Linked DNA regions of Homo sapiens: region 1 is linked to region 2. Evidence: fine-mapped QTL for protein levels in blood plasma. A gene starts in region 2. The other region holds a variant in brackets. All regions are shown on one strand. Distances are between the middles of the regions.

What was found. PIP is the posterior inclusion probability: the model's chance that the variant is causal. Protein levels are from the aptamer-based SomaScan assay of Sun 2018.
Region 1: its variant is fine-mapped to the plasma level of the BPIFB1 protein (Sun 2018, PIP 0.95).

Annotation. Positions count from the first base shown.
Region 1 is chr20:33,170,077-33,175,453 of GRCh38, reverse strand. BPIFA2 (BPI fold containing family A member 2) reads right to left here. Exons shown (of 9, transcript NM_080574.4): 3 at 2,378-2,522; 4 at 1,268-1,375; 5 at 1-47. Among named protein-coding and RNA genes, the nearest start is that of BPIFA2, 4.6 kb to the right of the region's middle. The variant A/C (reference allele first, on the strand shown) is at 2,307.
Region 2 is chr20:33,280,113-33,285,489 of GRCh38, reverse strand. It overlaps BPIFB1 (BPI fold containing family B member 1), which reads right to left and starts at 2,276. Exons shown (of 16, transcript NM_033197.3): 1 at 2,236-2,276. RefSeq lists enhancers at 3,203-3,703, 3,704-4,204.

The DNA.
Region 1 (5,377 bases), 110 kb after region 2:
GGAGGTCCAAGGAGGCTTTCAGGTTGATAATCTGGCCAATGATGGGCCTGCAGGAAGTAAGATGCACAGTGAACAAAGTCTAGAAGTTCCTGCCTGTTGCCCAGTTGGGTTCCTCCACCTGTGTGGACATGAGTCAGAATGTCTATGTGTAATGTCAACATGGCCCAGGTAATATCAACATGGTCCATATCCTCTATGAGATTTACATGTTTATATTAGGGGCTTCTTCTCCTGGCCACTTGGGTTTAGCTCATATGAATTTTTTATACAACATTACACTAATAAGTAAAATAATAATAGTTAACATTTATTGACAACAATTTATGTGTAGGTACTTTAAAAAAGTATTTTACCTGGATTCATTTATTACTATCCCTATTTTCTGAATGAGGAAACCTTGGTACAGAGAGGTTAAGTAACTATCCCAAGATCTCATAGCTAAATAATGGGTGGCATCATTAGTGCATGTAGTTTACAGAAGTGCTTTCACACATGCTCATTTCTTGTCTATCTCCTTTAAAATTAAAATTTTTTATTTTTTGTGAGACAGGGTCTCACTCTGTCGCCCAGGCTGGAATGCAGTGGTGCAATCACGGCTCACTGCAGCCTCGACCTCTCCGGCTCAAGCAATCCTCTTGCCTCAGCCTCCCAAGTAGCTGGGACTACAGGCGTGTGCTGCCACACCTGGTTAATTTTTGTATTTTTTGTAGAGACAGGGTTTTGTCATATTGTCCTGGCTGGTCACGAACTCCTGAGCTCAAGCAATCCTCCCACCTCAGTTTCTCAAATTGCTGGGATTACAGGTATAAGCCACCACTCCCAGCTAAACTTAAAAGAGTTTAAACTTATATTTTGCACACACACACTTTATTATACACTGTGTATTATTGTATGAATTTTTCTGTAGTGGTCACTGCAACTTAGAGAGAATCTTGAGGGACAAAATAATGCTGGAGGAAATTTTGCCAAAGAATGATAAATGTTTGTTATCTCAACTTTTCAAATTTTAAAACCAGATAAATGTCATGATTTCAAAACTATATTCAATGGAGCATTGTTTTTAAAAGACACTTGCTTATGGCCAGAGTTCTCTAGAACATTTTAAGGGTTAAGATCTTAGACCCAGAAGGGTTCTCTCACTCACAGATTGGGAAACTGAGGCCCAAGTTCACCCAGCAGCGGGAGGAGGTGCCCGATTCCCAGGTTGGGCATCCATCGGCCAGGTTGCACTGCCTTTCCCAAATCTCAGATTCTAGTGCATACTCACCCGGCCACAGTGACATTCGCGGTGACAGGGAAGCTCAGGTTAAGGCCTTTGCCATCATCGATCGGTTCAGCTTTGACATCCAGGATGAGGGAGTTGCTGATTTTCAACCTGTGTGAAACCCACAATTCACCCTTGTCACTCCTCATGACAGCCACTTGCCAACCACTTCCCTGGGCCAGCCTCGAGCTGAGCGTTTGGGTCTCGTCAGCCTTGCCTTCTTTAGTCTTCACTATAGCCCTGTTCAGAGGTTTGATTCTCTGTATTTTATGGCACAGCACACTGAGGCTCAGGCTGGTGTGATTTTCCCCCAGATTCCTAGGGGAGTAAGTGCCAGAGGCAGATTTTGAGGCCAGAACTATCTGACTTTAAAAGTTCATGAGTGGGACCGGGCACGGTGACTCACGCCTGTAATCCCAGCACTTTGGGAGGCCAAGGCAGGCAGATCTCCTGAGGTCGGGAGTTCGAGACCAGCCTGACCAACATGGAGAAACCCTGTGTCTACTAAATATACAAAATTAGCCGGGCGTGGTGGTGCATGCCTCTAATCCCAGCTACTCAGGAGGCTGAGGCAGGAGAATCGCTTGAACCCAGGAGGCGAGGCTGTAGTGAGCCAAGATTGTGCCATTGCACTCCAGCCTGGGTAACAAGAGTGAAACTCCATCTCAAAAAATAATAATAATAACAATAATAATAATAAAAGTATGTGAGTGGATCCACTGCCTGGGGTTATGTGGCGAAGACTCCAGTTCCCTTCCCCTAAGGGGATCTGGGCTTTTACCCCCAGTTATATATGGAAAAGGGAAGTTTTATTCCTTGGAAAGGGACTTTGTGTACCAGCAAATGGGTAGAGGTAAGGATAAATATAACCTTCACCCTGACCCTGAAATTAAAGAAAGCGGAAGCCCGAACCCATAAGATGCCCGGATTGACTCTGTAGCCCTGCCTCTAATTTACTCAAGCTCTGGTGGGTCTGGCCTTGCTCAGACCACCTTGGCTCTGTGGGAGGGGAATGAGGCTTGTCCATCTGTCTTTCATCTTA[A/C]ACTTACCTCCTCAAAGATATGTTTTCCCTTTCCTTAGAGCAAAGATCTCCACCCTGAAGGACCAACTCACCCAAAAATGTCCGTGTTAGTTGGAAGCAGCTTAGAAATGACATTGTTCAGCAATTTCTCAGCTTCCTGGGCCTTCTGCTTGGCCAGTTGCCAAGCACTGGATTTCTGAAGCACTCCTAGGTCGACCTTCAGTTTCTCAAGGATGCCTGCCAAAAACAATCGCCATTTTGTGTCACGCACCACTTACGAAGTAGCTACGATGCTCCAGGTACCGGGTAAGACTGTTTGCCTATGTTATTTCATTTAATCTTTATAACAACTCAGTGAAGTAGATATTGTCACTGTCTGCTTTTTTATAGCTAAGGAAATAAAGGCTCTAGATGGTTAAGAAACGTGTCTAGCCACACAGCCAGGGAACTCTTGTTTCCTCCATACTGCCTCCGTACTATTAATAATATATACTGATTATTTATCAACAGTGCAATCAACCAGTTGGCCAGGCAATTGCTATTGATTGTACACCAGTGTCTAGGAGTGACTTAGGGGTCCATTGTGCTAAGTGAGATGCTCACGTGAGTTTGAAAAACTAGAAAGAATGAGAGAATACACTCAAGAAATGAAAAATCTAGAATCCAGGAGAAAAAATGGCTCCAATCCATGAAACTGGAAAACGAGAGTCCCAGAATGACAGCTTTCCAGCAGGTCCACAGAGCAATAATAATAATTTTTTTTTTTTAACTTTAAGTTCCGGGATACATGTGCAGAATGTGCAGGTTTGTTACATAGGTATACATGTGCCATGGTAGTTTGCCGCACCTATCAACCCGTCATCTAGGTTTTAAGCCCCACCTGCATTAGGTATTTGTCCTAATTCTCTCCCCCACCTTGCCCCCAAGCCCCCAAATGGCCCCAGTGTGTGTTGTTCCCCTCCCTGCATCCATGTGTTCTCATCATTAAACTCCCATTCATGAATGAGAACATGCAGTGTTTGGTTTTCTGTTCCTGTGTTAGTTTGCTGAGGATGATGGCTTCTGGCTTCATCCATGTCCCTGCAGAGGACATGATCTCATTCTTTTTTATGGCTGCATAGTATTCCATGGTGTATATGTACCACATTTTCTTTATCCAGTCTATCATTGATGGGCATTTGGGTTGGTTCCATGTCTTTGCTATTGTAAATAGTGCTGCAATAAACATATGTGTACATGTGTCTTTATAGTAGAATGTTTTATATTCCTCTGGGGATATACCCAGTAATGGGATTGCTGGGTCAAATGGTATTTCTGGTTCTAGATCCTTGAGGAATCACCACACTGTCTTCCTCAATGGTTGAACTAATTTACAGTCCCACCAACAGGGCAAAAGTGTTCCTATTTCTCTACAGCCTTGCCAACATCTATTGTTTCCTGACTTTTTAATAATTGCCATTCTTACTGGTGTGAGATGGTATCTCATTGTGGTTTTGATTTGCATTTCTCTAATGATCAGTGATGATGAGCTTTTTTTCATATGTTTGTTGGCCACATAAATGTCTTCTTTTGAGAAGTGTCTGTTCATATCCTTTGCACACTTTCTGATAGGGTTGTTTGTTTTTTTCTTGTAAATTTGTTTAAGTTCCTTGTAGATTCCGGATATTAGACCTTTGTCAGATAGATAGATTGCAAAAATGATCTCCCCTTCTGTAGGTTGCCTGTTCACTCTAATGCCAGTTTCTTTTGCTGTGCAGAAGCTTTTCAGTTTAATTAGATCCCATTTGTTAATTTTCCATGCTCACGGATAGGAAGAAACAATATCATGAAAATGGCCATACTGCCCAAAGTAATTTATAGATTCACTGCTATTCCCATCAAACTACCATTGACTTTCTTCACAGAATTAGAAAAAAAAACTACTTTAAATTTCATATGGAACCAAAAAAAGAGCACATATAGCAAGACAATCCTAAGCAAAAAGAACAAAGCTGGAGACATCATGCTACCTGGCTTCAAACTATACTACAAGGATACAGTAAGCAAAACAGCATGGTACTGGTACCAAAACAGACATATAGACCAATGGAACAGAACAGAAACTTCAGAAATAACACCACATGTCTACAACCATCTGATCTTCAACAAACCTGACAAAAACAAGCAGTGGGGAAAGGATTCTGTATTTAATAAATGGTGCTGGGAAAACTGGCTAGATGTATGCAGAAAACTGGAACTGGATCCCTTCCTTACACCTTATTAAAAACTTAACTCAAGATGGTTTAAATACTTAAATGTAAAACCCAAAACCATAAAAAACCTGGGCAATACCATTCAGGACATAGGCACGGGCAAAGACTTCATGACACCAAAAGCAGTTGCACCAAAAGAAAGCAATAATTCTTATAGGAGGAGGAGGACAAAGTGTCTTTATGATAGGTCTCTGGAGAACAGGGGGATGGGAATAAATGTCGTGACTGGGTGTGGTGGCTCACGCCTGTAATCCCAGTACTTCGGGAGGCCAAGGCAGGAGGATCACTTGAGGCCGGGAGTTCGAGACCAGCCTGGGCAAAATGGTGAGACTCCACCGCTACAAAAAATGTAAAACTTAGCCAGGTGTGGTGGTGTGCACCTGTAGTCCCGGCTACTGGGGAGGCTGAGGTGAGAGGATCAGTTGAGCCCAGGAGGTTGAGGCTGGCAGTGTACTCTAGCTTGGGTGACAGAGTGAGACCTTGTCTCAAAAAATAATAAATGTCATGATAGATACAGGATGATGCTCATGAAAATAATTAAGTATATATGAGAAGAAAATAATTCAAGTGAGAAACAACAGGGCAATTACTAACTTAAGGAAAAACAAAAGACTATACCGTATAAGAAAAGAGATGTAATCATAATATTGTAACTTGGCTCTGTAATGGACAATATCTACCTAGTTATAATGATTCAGAGAATGACACTTTAAATAAAATTGGTGATATAACTACGTCTAATCGTATAATTCACGAGGTGACTTTGGTTTAGACATTTCTGTCTCTGGGCCTCAGTTTTCTCAGCTGTGAAATTAGAGTGTGAGTCCTTTCTGCATCTTT
Region 2 (5,377 bases):
TGCCCACCTCGGCCTCCCAAAGTGCTGGGATTACAGGCGTGAGCCACCGCGCCCAGCCTGTATTAGCTATTTTCTTACAGAAAATCCAGCAACAATGCTCAGAACAAAGAACTTCTGCTTCCCGTGTCTCCCACCCCTCAGTCTGACACTTAAAACCCTCTATGGTTCACCGTCTGCTGACCTCACCTCCTGCTTTCTCTCCCCTTGTTCTAGCAAGTTCCAAGCAGTTGGAAGGTCTCAGAACATACTGTGTTCTCTCCTGTGTCCGTGCCTTTGCTCTTGCTCTTCCTTGCTTCCTGGAATGCTTTTCTCCTCCCATATCTCCCTGATGAACTCCTATTCATCCTTTAAAACCCTGCCAAGATTTGTCACTTTCCCTATAAAGCTTCCCCTGTCCTGCAGACAGGGAACCTGGACCACACTTGGAGAAATGTTGTCCTGGGGCCCAAGACATGAAGGTTGGAGGCAGGAAGGAAATGAGGAGCCAGGTAGGACTCAAAGTTGTGAAAAAGCTCTTTGCTTAATCTGCAATACTAAGGGGGCTGGGGAGGGACTGAATGGCTTCTTGGAGCCAGGAAAAGAAGGGCAGAGAGAGAGAGAGAGAAAGAGAGAGAGAGAAAGGGCCCTGTGGCTCATGCCAGGGAGAGGAGCTTGGGGGTATTCTGGCCCCTTGGCTGCTCTGTCCCCTCCCTCCACAGGGGTGTGGCATCAACATCTGTAGTCCAGTCCTGAGCTCTCCAGCTTGCACCCTGGCTCTGTCTGCCAGCCCCCCATGGAAGCTCCTGCCCCTGTGGACTGTCCTGCTTGGAGGGAGGGGAGACGCTGCAGAGATCTGAGCCCCTCGCTTGGTTCAGCATGTGGATTTCTTTTTGCCAAAGACAAATGTGGCATCCGGATGACATGTGTCTCCTGTGCCCTGGAGCAGTGTGAGCTCTTCTGAGACCCTTGCAATAATGATTCAGCCTCTGCTTCCCTGACCAAGCTGTGAGCTCTGGGAGGGAGGGCTGGGTCTGCCTGCTCCCTGCTGTGTCCCTGGCATCCAGTATAGTGGTTGGCATAGACCAGGTGCTTAATAAATGGCTGCTGAATAATTGCATAGCCTCTGGAAGCCCCGAAAGAATTGGAAATCTGAGCCTGCTAAGCTGAAAAGGTTAGTGTTAGGAGGCCTGAAGGTGGAGGGGAAAATATTATTGGCTTGGCAGCCAGATGAACCCTAGTTGGAGGCCTGCCTCTACCACTTGCTCTGTGATCTTTGACAAGTGACTTACCCTTTCTGAGCCTCCATTTACTCATCTATAAAATGGGGAATAATTATAGTACTTATGTCATAGGCTTTTTGGGAAGATTAAATGAGACAATCTATTTGTGGCCTGGCATGGCCAAGCGTTCAGTAGATGGTAGCTTCCACGATAATTATGACAGGTATTATTACTAATATTGGAGTCAGAAGGAGACACCTTGCAGCCAAAGCCAGAAGACAGAGCTGAACCCCGGCATCCAGGCACCCCTGTGGCCCCACTCCATATTTTCCTTGCAAATACCTTGACTCTGTCTGTCCTGCATTATCTGTACACACTGCTCAGTCCTCTTTGGATCAGAGAAACCCAGGGACCCACGAGGATGGTAGCATCCCTGTTTCCCTCCTGTGGAAAAGACTCTCCTCCCCCAGATCCAGGCACCACACACGCCCCTGTCATATGGCACCTCCTCTCCCAGCCTTTGCTTCTGCTAGTTCCCCTTCGTGGAATATCTTTCTCTCCTCCTTTGCCCAATCGCCTTCTACTCGGCTTTGCAACCAACACATCACCTCTTCCAGGATCCCTTCTTTGACTGTCCTCCACTCCCATGTCCCTGGGTCTTCCTTGGGCACCACATTGTCCTGCACTGGGAGTTCTTTGAGGGACAGAGTCTGCGTCTCATGCTTCTTTTGTCCCAGCACCACCGCAGCACAGCTGGGACAGAGCAACTGGTATGTGCAGAGTGGGTTTATGTCACTAGGAAGAGGTCAGGAAAACACTCAGCCAGCCCCATCCCTTCGTCACTGCCCTTTGGTCCTCTGGGCGAGGGAGCTGGGCATCTCTCTACACCTGGCCCTGACCCTCAGCGGATCCTGACTCACCGAGGGCCCTTCCCTGAGGGCGAGCCTCCCCTGTGCTCCTGACCTGACCCCAACAGGTATCTCTAGCTCAGAACCTTCCTGGCAACCTTGGCTTTCAGCCCCTTCCCTACTTTTACCTGGGCACGCTGGAGTCCTCGGCCCGCTCCTCTCCTCTCCCGGGCAGTGGGTCTGGAAGTCCAACCTTATATCCTGCACACCCCAGCACAGGCTTTGTCTTTAGGCAGAGGCCTCAGACCAGGCCGAGGTCTCCAAGGTAAATATTTGTGGCTTCTGCTGAACCACAGCCCCGCCCGGAGGCAGCCTTGGGACTCCAGCTTCCTGAGGTTTGGAGAAAGGAAGGTCCAGGCTGAGAGAAGCACAGTGCATATAGCAGAATAAGCACTCCATAAATGTGAGTGGCCGTTGCCATTAATATTATTATTGCTTATAATAGGATGAGCCTTTGTAGAGGGATTACAACAATTGTTTAATCCAGATAATCAATTTGGGAAAAGGAAGGAGTAGCCTTACCCACCCCTTATTCCTAAATACATCAAAGATACACATCTCCATCAATTAATTCACCCAGGAGAATAGATTTGAATCCTATTTTTGCCACTGCTTTGCTGTGTGCCCTTGGGCAAGGTACTTCACCTCTCTGGGCCCCAATGACCTCATCTATAGCATGGGGATAATAGTAGCTCCTCCTCATAGGTTGTTAAGAGCATGAGTTGAAGTGCATGCCTACACAGTGCTTAGCATGGGCTTTCATTTCATTCATTCATTCATTCCGCAGCAATTAAAATCTGCTCTACCTTGTCTGCATCTTTAGGAATCTCCATGAGCACTTGTGGACCAAAAGAATAAGGAGGGATGACCATGAACCTAAAGGACAAATGTCAGAGCCCAGCAGGACGCTGTCATCCACCACCTGGGCCCAGGTCTTGGCTCACGCAGCCTGCACAGTCACCCAGAGGTGGGCATCAGCAGCGTTAATGTTACAGAGGGCACCTGAGGCTCAGAGAGGCGAGTGACTTGCTCAAGGTCACATGACCAGGGATTCCAGCTTTGGGACCTGAACCCGATCATCAGTCCAGACCGGACCCTCTTAACCGCCACACTGTCCTTCCCCTGAGACTTCAATTTAGCACTGGAGGTGGTGGTGACACCAACATGGCCTTTTGATGTCATCTGGGGAATTATCCTTGCTACCCAGTTTTTGTCTAGAAGAATGGAATTGTGGTTTAGAGCTGGGATGGCCATTGTTGAATCCTGTCTCCATCTGCAGCAGACAAGTCAGGGGCAGTAAGTGTTCTGAGGTCACAAAGTACGTGGCCAGGCCCTGGCTGGTCTCTTCCTCCTGCTTTTTGACAAGAAGAACAAGGTGAAGAGCGTTTGCTGTCCTGCCATGTTTGCAAACACACCAAAAGCCCTGAATACCTAAAGGTGAGGTGTTTTGAGAGAGCTCTTGGGAGGACCCTGCCGATCCCTTGGGCACATCTCCAGAGAGGCAAATGCCCCTGCTTGGCTTCCCAGCTGGCCATGCCCACTGCCCATGGACAATGACCCTCTGTGCGGTGCTCGGGCCCAATGCCAAGACCTGGGGCCGCATCAGCTCCTGCTTCCTGCCACGTGCTGGGACAGCAAAGCTGGCTGCATCTCTGCAGGCCCATGGTCCCCAGACTCCACACCTGCCCTCAGTACCGCGTGGCCCCTCCTCAGGTTGCTGGCGTCTCTTGGCCTTGGCTCCACCTCTCTTCAGCTCCCAGGCCTTTTTGTGCCGTGTCCTCTTTCTGGAGTACCTCCTTCACCCTCCTGAAAACCTAATTGTGCCCTGTCTGGGAAGAAGCGCAGGAGTGCAGGAGGAAGCCTGTGGAGGCCGACAGACACGGCTCAGATTCCTGCTCCTATACTGACAGCTGTCAGCCTTGGGAAAATTGCTTCTTCTCTATGAGACTGTTTCCTCCATTGTGAAATGGGACTATTTTGAGGGTCTCGTAAGGTCATGAGAAATGCTTGAAACATCAGAGAATTCAGCAAGTGGTAAATTCACACCTGTAATACCAGCATTTTGGGAGGCAAATACTGGTGGATTACCTGAGGTCAGGAGTTTGAGATCAGCCTGGTCAACATGGTGAAACCCTGTCTCTAAAAAAAAAAAAAAAAAAAAATTAGACGGGCATGGTTTTTAGGTGGCACGTGCCTGTAGACCCAGTTACTCAGAAGGCTGAGGCAGGGGAACCACTTGAACCCAGGAGGCAGAGGTTGCAGTGAGCCAAGATCGCACCACTGCACTCCCGCCCGGGCTACAGAGCAAGACTCTGTCTCACACACACAAAAAAGAACGCAACATCTGCATAAAGCTGCCTGACTGCTGCTCCACCTGGCCTGGATGTCCTCTTCCCAGCATGTTTGGCTGCTGGCCACCTTTCAGCCCTCACCTCTCTCTACTTCATCCCTCGCTCCTCTCACTCCCACCCCAGGGCCTGCGCACATGCTGGCCTTATCCCAGGAGCGCTCTCCTTCCAGCTCTCATTCTGGCTTCTTCTAATTCACCAAGTCTCAGCTACAGTGTTGCCTCCTGGGGTGGGGTGGGGGAGCAGGGGACAAGGGGACCACCCTCTCTAAGGTAGGGCTCTTTTTGCTGCACACTGAGGGTGTCCTTACTAGCATTTACTGGAACTGGGTCTGAAAACTTGAGTGTTGTTTTAGGCACCATGATTTCCCAGATGCTGTATACCAAGGAGAGGTCCTGGGCCACAGACCAAGCAGTGGCTAAAAACCAGTTGCACAGCTCCTGCATCTCTCATGCAGGGGGCCCTGACCCAGATTAAGGCAACGAAAGGGCCAAGAAGGGACAGGAAGAAGATGGCAGAGGTATTTCTTGGGAGACAGCTGTGGTCCCTCCTCCTCTCCCAGGGAGGAGGGCAGGAGGTGTTTGGGCCTCAATGCAGGCCTAGCAGGAGGGACCTTTTCAGGGACCACTTAGGGGCTTGAGGTTTGTCTCCCCTGGAGTTGGGGCTTGCAGTAGACTGGGTTGTGTCTCCTGATGAGTTGAAGTCATGTTGGGCAAAGTGACTTCCGTAAGTGGAAAATTACTGCTCTCTGTTCCCTCTGGGCAGGGTCAAAGCGCATGTGTGTGTGTGTTTTCCCAGGGCCGGGTGTGGACCCTGCAAGACGAAGATCGGTCTAGGGCTGCTTGAAGTCCTTCCTAGTATCACCACCTGGAGAGGACGCTAGAGAACCAGGGGCTGGGAGTGGCTGGGGTGGCCTGCGGGA